2 separate regions of the Homo sapiens genome follow, and region 2 is linked to region 1. The links come from fine-mapping of genetic effects on gene expression. A gene starts in region 1. The other region holds a variant in brackets. All regions are shown on one strand. Distances are from middle to middle. Region 1 holds the start of GNMT (glycine N-methyltransferase). Region 2 holds the start of LINC02976 (long intergenic non-protein coding RNA 2976).

Evidence for each region. PIP is the estimated chance that this variant, and not a neighbour inherited with it, causes the effect.
Region 2: its variant is the best candidate, but not a certain one, in a credible set for the expression of GNMT in blood mononuclear cells (TOPMed, PIP 0.59).

The regions. Positions count from the first base shown.
Region 1 is chr6:42,959,049-42,963,427 of GRCh38, reverse strand. GNMT (glycine N-methyltransferase) reads right to left here and starts at 2,674. Exons shown (of 6, transcript NM_018960.6): 1 at 2,455-2,674; 2 at 1,089-1,216; 3 at 550-666; 4 at 214-356; 5 at 1-100. The coding sequence starts at 2,660. CNPY3-GNMT (CNPY3-GNMT readthrough) reads right to left here. Exons shown (of 5, transcript NR_134892.2): 2 at 1,089-1,216; 3 at 550-666; 4 at 1-100. RefSeq lists enhancers at 2,226-2,275, 2,454-2,955.
Region 2 is chr6:42,936,522-42,940,900 of GRCh38, reverse strand. CNPY3 (canopy FGF signaling regulator 3) reads right to left here. Exons shown (of 6, transcript NM_006586.5): 4 at 3,062-3,184; 5 at 2,694-2,811; 6 at 1,607-2,333. The coding sequence ends at 2,110. All of the region lies in intron 1 of CNPY3-GNMT (CNPY3-GNMT readthrough), which reads right to left. LINC02976 (long intergenic non-protein coding RNA 2976) reads right to left here and starts at 408. Exons shown (of 5, transcript NR_186646.1): 1 at 295-408; 2 at 1-128. RefSeq lists an enhancer at 1,795-2,297. The variant C/A (reference allele first, on the strand shown) is at 2,255.

The DNA.
Region 1 (4,379 bases):
GGCCAGCCCCCGGCACCTGCACCGTATAGTCCAGGGTCACCATGTGGGCCTTGTTGTTCACTATCAGCACTGATGTTGTGACGTCCTTGGTCAAGTCACTCTGTAGGTGGTGGGGCAGCCGGCATTAGCCTCTGTAACCCACCTTGGGGCCACTGGACCCTCCCTCCACCCCACCCCCACCCCCACCCCCACCCCCACCCCAGAGGGCCCCACCTTATAGTAGATGTTCTTCCCTGGGGGTGCACAGCCTGTACTGAGGATGTGGTCGTAGTTGCGATGATCAATGACCAGTAGGCCCCCTGCCCGCACCATGCTCGCAATGTTTTTCAGCGCCAGCCGGTGCTCACTCTGGTCCCCTGAGCTCCAGGCACGGGCAGAAAGACTCCATCTGCTCAGGGCCCCCAGCACCAGTCTCCCTCCCATCTCTCCCCTCCCCAGGGGTGCCAGAGCCAAGGCAGAGAGTCTGCTTTGGCAGGAGAGCAGGTGCCAGATGTCTGTGGAAGGGGGCCTCAAGGCGGGGGCCATGCCCAAGGCCACACCCTCTCTTACCTTTGCAGTCTGGCAAGTGAGCGAAACTGTTTCCAAGGCAGATGACAGCATCAAAGCCACCCTCTGCTGACTGGGGCACATCTTTGTCCAGAGTCATCCAGTTGGCTTCTTCGATGACTAGGGGTCAGGAAGAGAAAGAGGAATCAGGGAGGCACGATGGTACCAGTAGCAGCCACCTCCACCAAGTGCAGTCCTGCCTGGGTTTCTTCTTAAGACACACAAGCTCCCCGTTCAGTTAGGGGGAGGAGAAAAGAGGGATCAAGGGAGAAGGAACCCTGGTTGGGAAGGAGGGCTCTGTGCTTATGGGTTTTTCTTTGAGGGGAGGGACAAGATGCCACAAACACAGTTAAAACCAGCTCTTCACACCCGGTGTCTCATTCTGGAGCTTAAGACTTGCTTTTCAGAGAAATGACAGTAATTTTTCTGTCTCCCCGAGGAAAACACAACACTCCACCCCCGCCCCCACTTAAAGGAGCCCCAGGCAGAATGAACAGTGTTCCTGGTGACTGGGCTGGGGGAGCCTGGCTAGACCTGCATACCCCACTTGTCGAAGGCGGGCTCGTGCCGCCGGTTCCAGCGCTCCTTAAGTGCATACTTCAGCATCTTGTCACTGGCATCCACACTCGTCACACTGAAGCCCTCTTCCACCAGCATAATGGAGTCCACCCTGAGTACGGCCAGCGAGGAGAGGCAGAGAGAGGCAGTTAGGGGAGCCTGGGAGGGCCAGGAGGAGACCCTGCACTGGACACTTTTGTCTCTACTTCTCAGAGTCCGTTCCTCTGCCTCCTCTCCCCAGGCCCTCTCCACTGACCTCACAAATCTGTTTCCTGTCACCACAAGGCAACTTTTTTTTAAAAGCACCTCTTCAGAGCCAGGCACTCTACAAATATGCATTAATTCTCATGGCAATCCTGAGAGGTAAATAGTGTCATTCCCATTTGAGAGACAGACAAGCTGAGGCTCCTTGAAGTTAAAATACGTGTGCACAAAAGGCAGTAGAACATGGTGGTTTAGAGCACAGGACAAAGCCGGGCGCGGTGGCTCATGCCTGTAATCCCAGCACTTTGGGAGGCCGAGGTGGGCAGATCACAAGGTCAGGAGATCGAGACCATCCTGGCTAACACGGCGAAACCCCGTCTCTACTAAAAATACAAAATATTAGCTGGGCGTGGTGGCAGGCGCCTGTAGTCCCAGCTACTCGGGAGGCTGAGGCAGGAGAATGGCATGAACTCAGGAGGCGGAGCTTGCAGTGAGCCGAGATGGAGCCACTGCACTCCAGCCTGGGCGACAGAGCACGACTTCATCTCAAAAAAAAAAAAAAAAAAAAAGAGAAAAATAGAGCACAGGACAGATCTTAACCAACCCGGGCCTGTTAGCTCCTTTTCACTGGATGATGTATGAGGGAATTTTACTTTGCTGAGGCCTTACTTCCCCAGTAGTAAATGAGAGAATATCACTGCTTAACTTCATGGGGCTTTGTGAGGGTTTGAAAAAGTGATGTATCAAAAGCTCCTGGCACTGGGCTTGGCAGGTGCAAATGTTGAGCAATGTTAACTGTTAACACTGCCCAAGGCCATCACAGGAGGAATATTTGCAATCTGTCCGTGGCTCTGGCTCCAAAGCCTCAGGGACGCTCACTTTTTCTGCCCACACCCTCACTCACACTCAGTCTCCCTTCTCCGGGGCCTCTCCCTGCGAACCGCTACCTGGACCCCTAGCCTCACGGGGCACTCGCAGTGCCTGTTCTGCCGGGCAGGTACCTGCTCCTGGCCCTGGTGTCCCACCCGTTCCAGGATTGGCAAAGGCCGCCCTGACGTGCCCGGCCCTGTGGTTCTGCGGCCGCGCAGTACAGGCTGAGACAGACCCCGATCTCATGCAACGCCCCCGGCCCCGGCCTGGGCTCACCCAGTGCCACAGGCTACGTCGAGCACCCGCTGGCAGCCGTGCTGGCGCAGCAGCCCAAGCAGCCATGCCTTGTACTCGGCGGTGCGGCTGCGGGTGTCTCCGATATACAGCTGCCACACGCGCGCCGCCTCCCCGTCCGCGTACTGGTCCGGGAGCCCTTCGGCCGCCACCCCCAGGGAGCGGGTCCGGTACACGCTGTCCACCATCCTGCGCCGCGCCTGGCTCCGCAGCCACCCGCTCCGCACTTAAAGCATAAGCACTGCTGGCAGCCGACAGCCCCACCTGGCCAATAGCAGGTGAGCGCGCGGACACGCCCCTGCCGGGCTTTGGGCCGGGCGCCCGAGTCTGTCCAGCTGCAGGGAGGGCGCTGCCTCGCAATCCTGGGCTAGGTCCTTTTAGCCAGCCTGCGGACCCAGCCCTCTGTGCAATCCCACGGCGGGAGAGGACCCTCGGAGCCCTCTGCCCACTTAACCCGGGTCTCGAGGAGAAGGCGAGAGGGGTCAGGAGAGGCGGGAGCAATGAGATTGCCACTCCATCCCCTGAGATCCGCAGAGCTGAGCGCCAGGCGGGCAGGACTGGACCGTTCCCAGCGAAGGAAGGCATCAGCATATCTAAACAAAGATTGTGCCACCGAAGTGTGTAGGTATAGTCAGCCGGTGCAGGGAAGACAGGGGGAGTCTCTGGAGGTAAAGCTGGTCTGTCCACCGAATCCAGGGGCGGAGCCCGGCTGGAATACGGTAACACGGTAACACGGTGAAACCTGGCTAACACGTCTCTACTAAAAATAAAGAAAGATTAGCTGGGACATGGTGACACGCGCCTGTAGTCCTAGCTACTCCGGAGGCTGAGCCAGGAGAATCGCTTGAACCCGGGAAGGCGGAAGTTGCAGTGAGCCGAGTGCACCACTGCACTCCAGCCTGGGCAACAGAGCAAGACTCCGTCTCAAAAAACAAAAAGCAAAAAACAAACAAAACCCTCTGCTTTCACAGGAAGCAGGAGAATAGGGTCTAGAGACAGGGAACATAAGGCCAATTCACACTTCAGTTATAACGGGAAATATCCTCTCCATAGGGCGTATGCCCGCCATTAATAACTTTGTAACTGTAACTTTACTTCATCCTCTTCATTTACATAGGGTGTACCCCAAGTAGAGGGTATTTAAACTCACAAAATGTAACAGGGCCTTTGAGCCCCTATGCTCATGCTCGCTCCCACACTGTGGAGTGTACTTTCATTTTCAATAAAATCCTTCATTCCTTTCTTGCTTTGTTTGTGCATTTTGTCCAATTGTTTGTTCAAGATGCCAAGAACCTGGACATCCTCTACCGTTAACATATTTTGGCGAGCCAGCCAGCAGAAAGAGGTAAGCCCAAAGTTTGGGATTCATTTTTCTCCCTTTCCTTTCTGCTCAATTACAGGGCCGCTCTCGCGCTTCTCTCTCTCTCTCTCTCTCTCTCTCTCTCTCTGCCTCTCTCCTCCTTCCTTTCCAACTTGGGACCCTTGGTGGGCAGCGCCTAAACATGGAAGCAACTGCAGGGTTTTTTTTTGTTTTTGTTTTTGTTTTGAGACACAGTCTCGCTCTGTCGCCAGGCTGGAGTGCCGTGGTGCAATCTCAGCTCACTGCAATCTCCGCCTCCCAGATTCAAGCAATTCTCCTGCCTCAGCCTCCTGAGTAGCTGGTATTACAGGCGCTCACCACCACGCCCGGCTAATTTTTGTATTTTTAGAAGAGGCAGGGTTTCACCATGTTGGTCAGGCTGGTCTCAAACTCCTGACCTCGTGATCCACTGGCGTCGGCCTCCCAAAGTGCTGGGATTATAGGTGTGAGCCACAGCGCCCGGTCTGTGCTACTCTTCTAAGCAGGGGGCCTGGTTAACGGGTGATGCTCTCCTTTGGTACTGTTTGGCCCCAGTGCTCCTTGGAGC
Region 2 (4,379 bases), 23 kb after region 1:
CTGGAGATGCAGAGGTGGAGGCTGGACCAAGACAGTATCATTTTCCCAGGACCTGGCGTCATCCTCAACAGCTTAAGGAGAGACAGATTCCATTCTGTTCCACTCTCTATGGCCTTGGCTGCCCTAACCTGGTAGAGGGGGAGAGGCTGGGACCAGGCTATGAGGGGGCCCCTCACTCCCAGTTCAGCCCCCAGAGCCGCTGCAATGGACGCAGGGAGGCTTCAGCAGTGTATCCCTCCTACCCACTGGGCCTAGCCTGGAAGTGTGAGGTAGAGTTGCAGTGTGGGTGCTCACGGGAGATCTGGTGCGGGCACAGCTCCCCCAGGACTTGCTGCCATTCTTTCCTTCCAATAAGCCACAGCTGCTTCCTATTCGCCTTTTAGGAATCTTGGTGGTGGTTAGGCCAGGCGCAGTGGCTCCCACCTGTAATCCCAACACTTTGGGAAGCCGAGGCAGATGGATCATGAGGTCAGGAGTTCAAAACTATCCTGGCCAAGATGGTGAAACCCCGTCTCTACTACAAATACAAAAAAATTAGCTGGGCGTGGTGGCAGGTGCCTGTAATCCCAGCTACTCGGGAGGCTAAGGCAGAGAATTGCTTGAACCCGGGAGGCAGACGATGCAGTGAGCCAAGATCACACCACTGCACTCCAGCCTGGGCAACAGAGTGAGATTCCGCCTCAAAAAAACAAAACAAAACAAAACAAAACAAAAAGAATCTTGGTGGTGGTGACAGGTTAAGGCCAAGAAACTAAACCAGTTCGATACAACTCACACTGTCAGTGCCAGGGGTTGGGGGAAGAGGCCCTGGCAGCTGTGGAGAGTGGAAGTACCATGGATTTGTAATCTGAACGCCAGTGTCTGCGTCCCAGCTATACCACTCCTTAACAGCAGGACCTTGACTCCAAGGTCACCTGACTCCAAGCATATCACTTGACTCTAGCCTGTTTTCTCCTCTACACAATGAGGTTAACAGCACACCTCACAAGAGTGTGGTAATAGTAAAAGTTAAAGCATACAATTTGAATACATACAATTGTCATCACTACTGTACCAATTGCCCCGATCCCTGCCTTCAGGACAAACTGGGAGGTGCCTGAGCTTCCCCACCCCTTCTCCCTAGAGGCCAGCCTCTCTGCTCCTCCCTTGGCCCTGAGGAACATGGTGTGACCAGATGGTGTTGGGAACCGGGTGTCCTCCCAACTGCACTCCAGGTACAACAGCTAGGAACCTCAGAGTGATCAAGTGTGGTCATCAGAAAACAAGGTTCAGGACCAACAGTCAAGGCCAGGTGGAAGTAGGAACAGGGGCGGGAGCTGGCCAGGTAAACACTGCATTTTACACAACAAATGGGAGGCCTTGGGAAGAGGAGCAGCAGGAGAGAGGGAGGGAGGGAACGGCAGCCAGGTGTCCAGGACACGAGGGAGCAGCGTAAGGTCAGTGCACTGCCCTGGGCCTCATCCTATGCCCATGCCTCCCCTCACCCCAAGACAACCCTGGGCCTTCCCAGCACTTGCTGCTCCCGAGAGTGGGTGGGTTTTAGCCTTCCCCTCCTCAGCCCCACGGGCTGGAAGGCGAGGGGCAGGAAAGAACAAGAGGCTCCAGGGCACCTCTGAGGGCTGCAGAGGACTCAGAAATCAGAACCAGAACATTTTTACTCTTTGGGCTCTGGGAAGGGCCAGGCAGAGTGCAAGGTGTCCACAGGAGGGGTAAGCAGAGAGGAGCTACAGGGGGCTGCAGTCCTAGTACCCTGTTGGGGAGGACTGAGGGATGGTGAGTTTGGTCTCCGGAGGGGGCTCCAGTCCTGGTGCCCAGTTCTGACACCTGCCCCTCCTGAGTTCACACTGGAGTCCTTGCAGTCCTGAAACCACAAGGCCTGCCTGAACCCTGGGTCAGGAGAGAAACACTTGGGGAGGGGAAAGGACGGCGTGGGCTACCCATGACGGCTCTGAGTTCTTCCTGGGGCTTGTGTCTTTCCTTGGCAGAAGAGGGCACAGCCAAGGCAAGGAGGGGCTGAAGGCTGCGGGGCCATCCCGGCCTGCCAGAGCCATGCCCCTGACTCCTCAGCTTCAAAATCAGGGGTCTCAGGACAGAGGATGCTGGGTGGGCTCAGAGCTCATCAGGGGGGCTGTGTGTGAGAGGGGATGCCTTCTGGATGCCCTCATCCTCCTCGGGGCTGGGGTCTCCCTCAAGGCCACCCAGCTCCTTCCTTTGTTTGCTGCTGCTACTCCTGCCGCCTGCTGCCTTGGCCCTG[C/A]TGCTCTTCTTCTTGGACTTCTTCCCTCCCAGGGCAGCTGTGTCTCCCTTCTTGCCGGACCACTGCTCTGCCAGGCAACCTAGGGTGTGGAGGAGAGAGACCCTCAACAGAAGTGCCTCAGGGCTGGGGTGCTGGGCAAGGAGCACTGAGCAGGGAGCCGTGGGAGTAGCAACTGGGACTGTGCTTGACATCAGCCTCCCTGCCTCCTGCCTCTCGCTGTGGCCACCAGGCCCCTCTGGGGGCATCTGACTTGTCTGCCCATCATTCTGCACCTGGTTTCAGTGACTCTTACTTCACCATGTCTTGCCAATCAAGCCTTTCAAGGGCAGAGATCCTACAATGCCCTCTGGTGCCCTCTGTTTCTCCTCCTACCCACCTCCCCCAAGGGAGAGCAAACAAATCATCCAGAGCCAGCCTGCCCTTGCTTCCCCAAACTCACTGGTGTCTTTTCCCTTCAGCACGTGGTTGGCGCAGAGGAATTCAGTCAGGTCTTCCTCCTGGTGGTTCCTGTACCAGTCCTCGATCACCTCCTCAAACTCTTCCACCAGCACATCACACTGTTAATCATAATACCTCATATTGGCAAAGCCCCAGCACCTGACTCGCTCCTAGAGGAGCTCAGCTAAGCCTCGCAACCCACTGCAAGGTAGGCAGTGGCAGCGGTTCACCTAAGGAAACTGAGGCCAGAGAGGTGAAATGACCTGACCAAAGCCACCCCGGCCTGGGTGGACTTCCTCAGAGCAGACCCAATCCCCACCAGCCCCTCACTGGGCACAGCAACCCTTCCAAGGGCTGAAGGGCCTGTACCTGCTTCTTGAGGTCAGCCACCTCTGCAGAAGTCTCGTTCCACAGCTCATAGGGGATGTCCATCACCACCTTGACCCCTTTGTGTACCAGGTTGTGTAATGTCTCAAAGGTCTCTGACATGCCCTGGAAGAAGCGACCAGATATGGCAGGCGGAGCTCCCTTCTCTCCCTCCCACCCTCGTCTCCCAGTGGTGGCTAAGAACCCAGCTATAAGACCAATGCTCAACGCCCTCTAAGGATCCTCATCCTTTTTTTTTTGAGAAGGAGTCTCACTCTGTCGCCCAGGTTGGAGCGTCTCAGCTCACTGCAACCTCTGCCTCCCAGGTTCAAGCGATTTTCCTGCTTCAGCCTCCCAAGCAGCTGGGACTACAAAGGCGTGCCACCATACCCGGCTAATTTTTGTAGAGTTGGGGTTTTGTCATGTTGGTCAGGCTGGTCTCGAACTCCTAGCATCAAGTTTTCCACTCACCTCAGCCTCCCAAAGTGCTGAGATTACAGGCGTGAGCCACCGCACCTGGCCTCATCCTTGACCTGACCTTCCTCTTCCCTCTTTTAGGCCTGCTTCCCACAACCCCTGCACATATACCCCCTGATCTGCCTCTGCACACCTCATCGCTTCAAAAAGACCTGCGGCTGCCCTCAGGCCCTTTGGCTTTATGCTTCTTTTCCAGGAAATAGGTTTGTCTTAGCTCTTTCCCCTCACTATGGCTGGAAACACTCCCATATCATCCAGACCTGCTGTTCCGTTCTTCCTGGGTTGTGTCTTTCCTCAGTGGGAAAAAGGCATAGCTGAGGCAGGTAGACCCTTTATTCTGTAAAAACTATCTCTGCTAGCTGCCTAGGTCTTATCCCCAGAGAAAACATACTATCCATTTCCTCTATTTTCCCAGAGATAACTCATACAAATACCAATATCTAAATATATCCTCCCCCCGCCTTTTTACACAAGCAGTGGTATAGCATACACACTATTTTGCACTTGCCCTTTTTACTTATACCTTGAAGGGCTGGGTGCAGTGGCTCATGCCTGTAATCCCAGCACTTTGAGAGGCCAAGGTGGGCTGATCACCTGAGGTCAGGAGTTCGAGACCCCCTGGCCAGCATGGTGAAACCCCGTTTCTACTAAAAAACACAAAAATTAGTCGGGCGTGGTGGTCGGTGCCTGTAATCCCAGCTACTCAGGAGGCTGAGGTGGGAGAATAGCTTCAATCTGGAAGGTGGAGGTTGCAATGAACTGAGATCGCACCACTGCGCTCCAGCTTGGGCAACAGAGTGTGAGACTCTGTCTCCAAAACAAACAAACACACAAAAACCTTGAA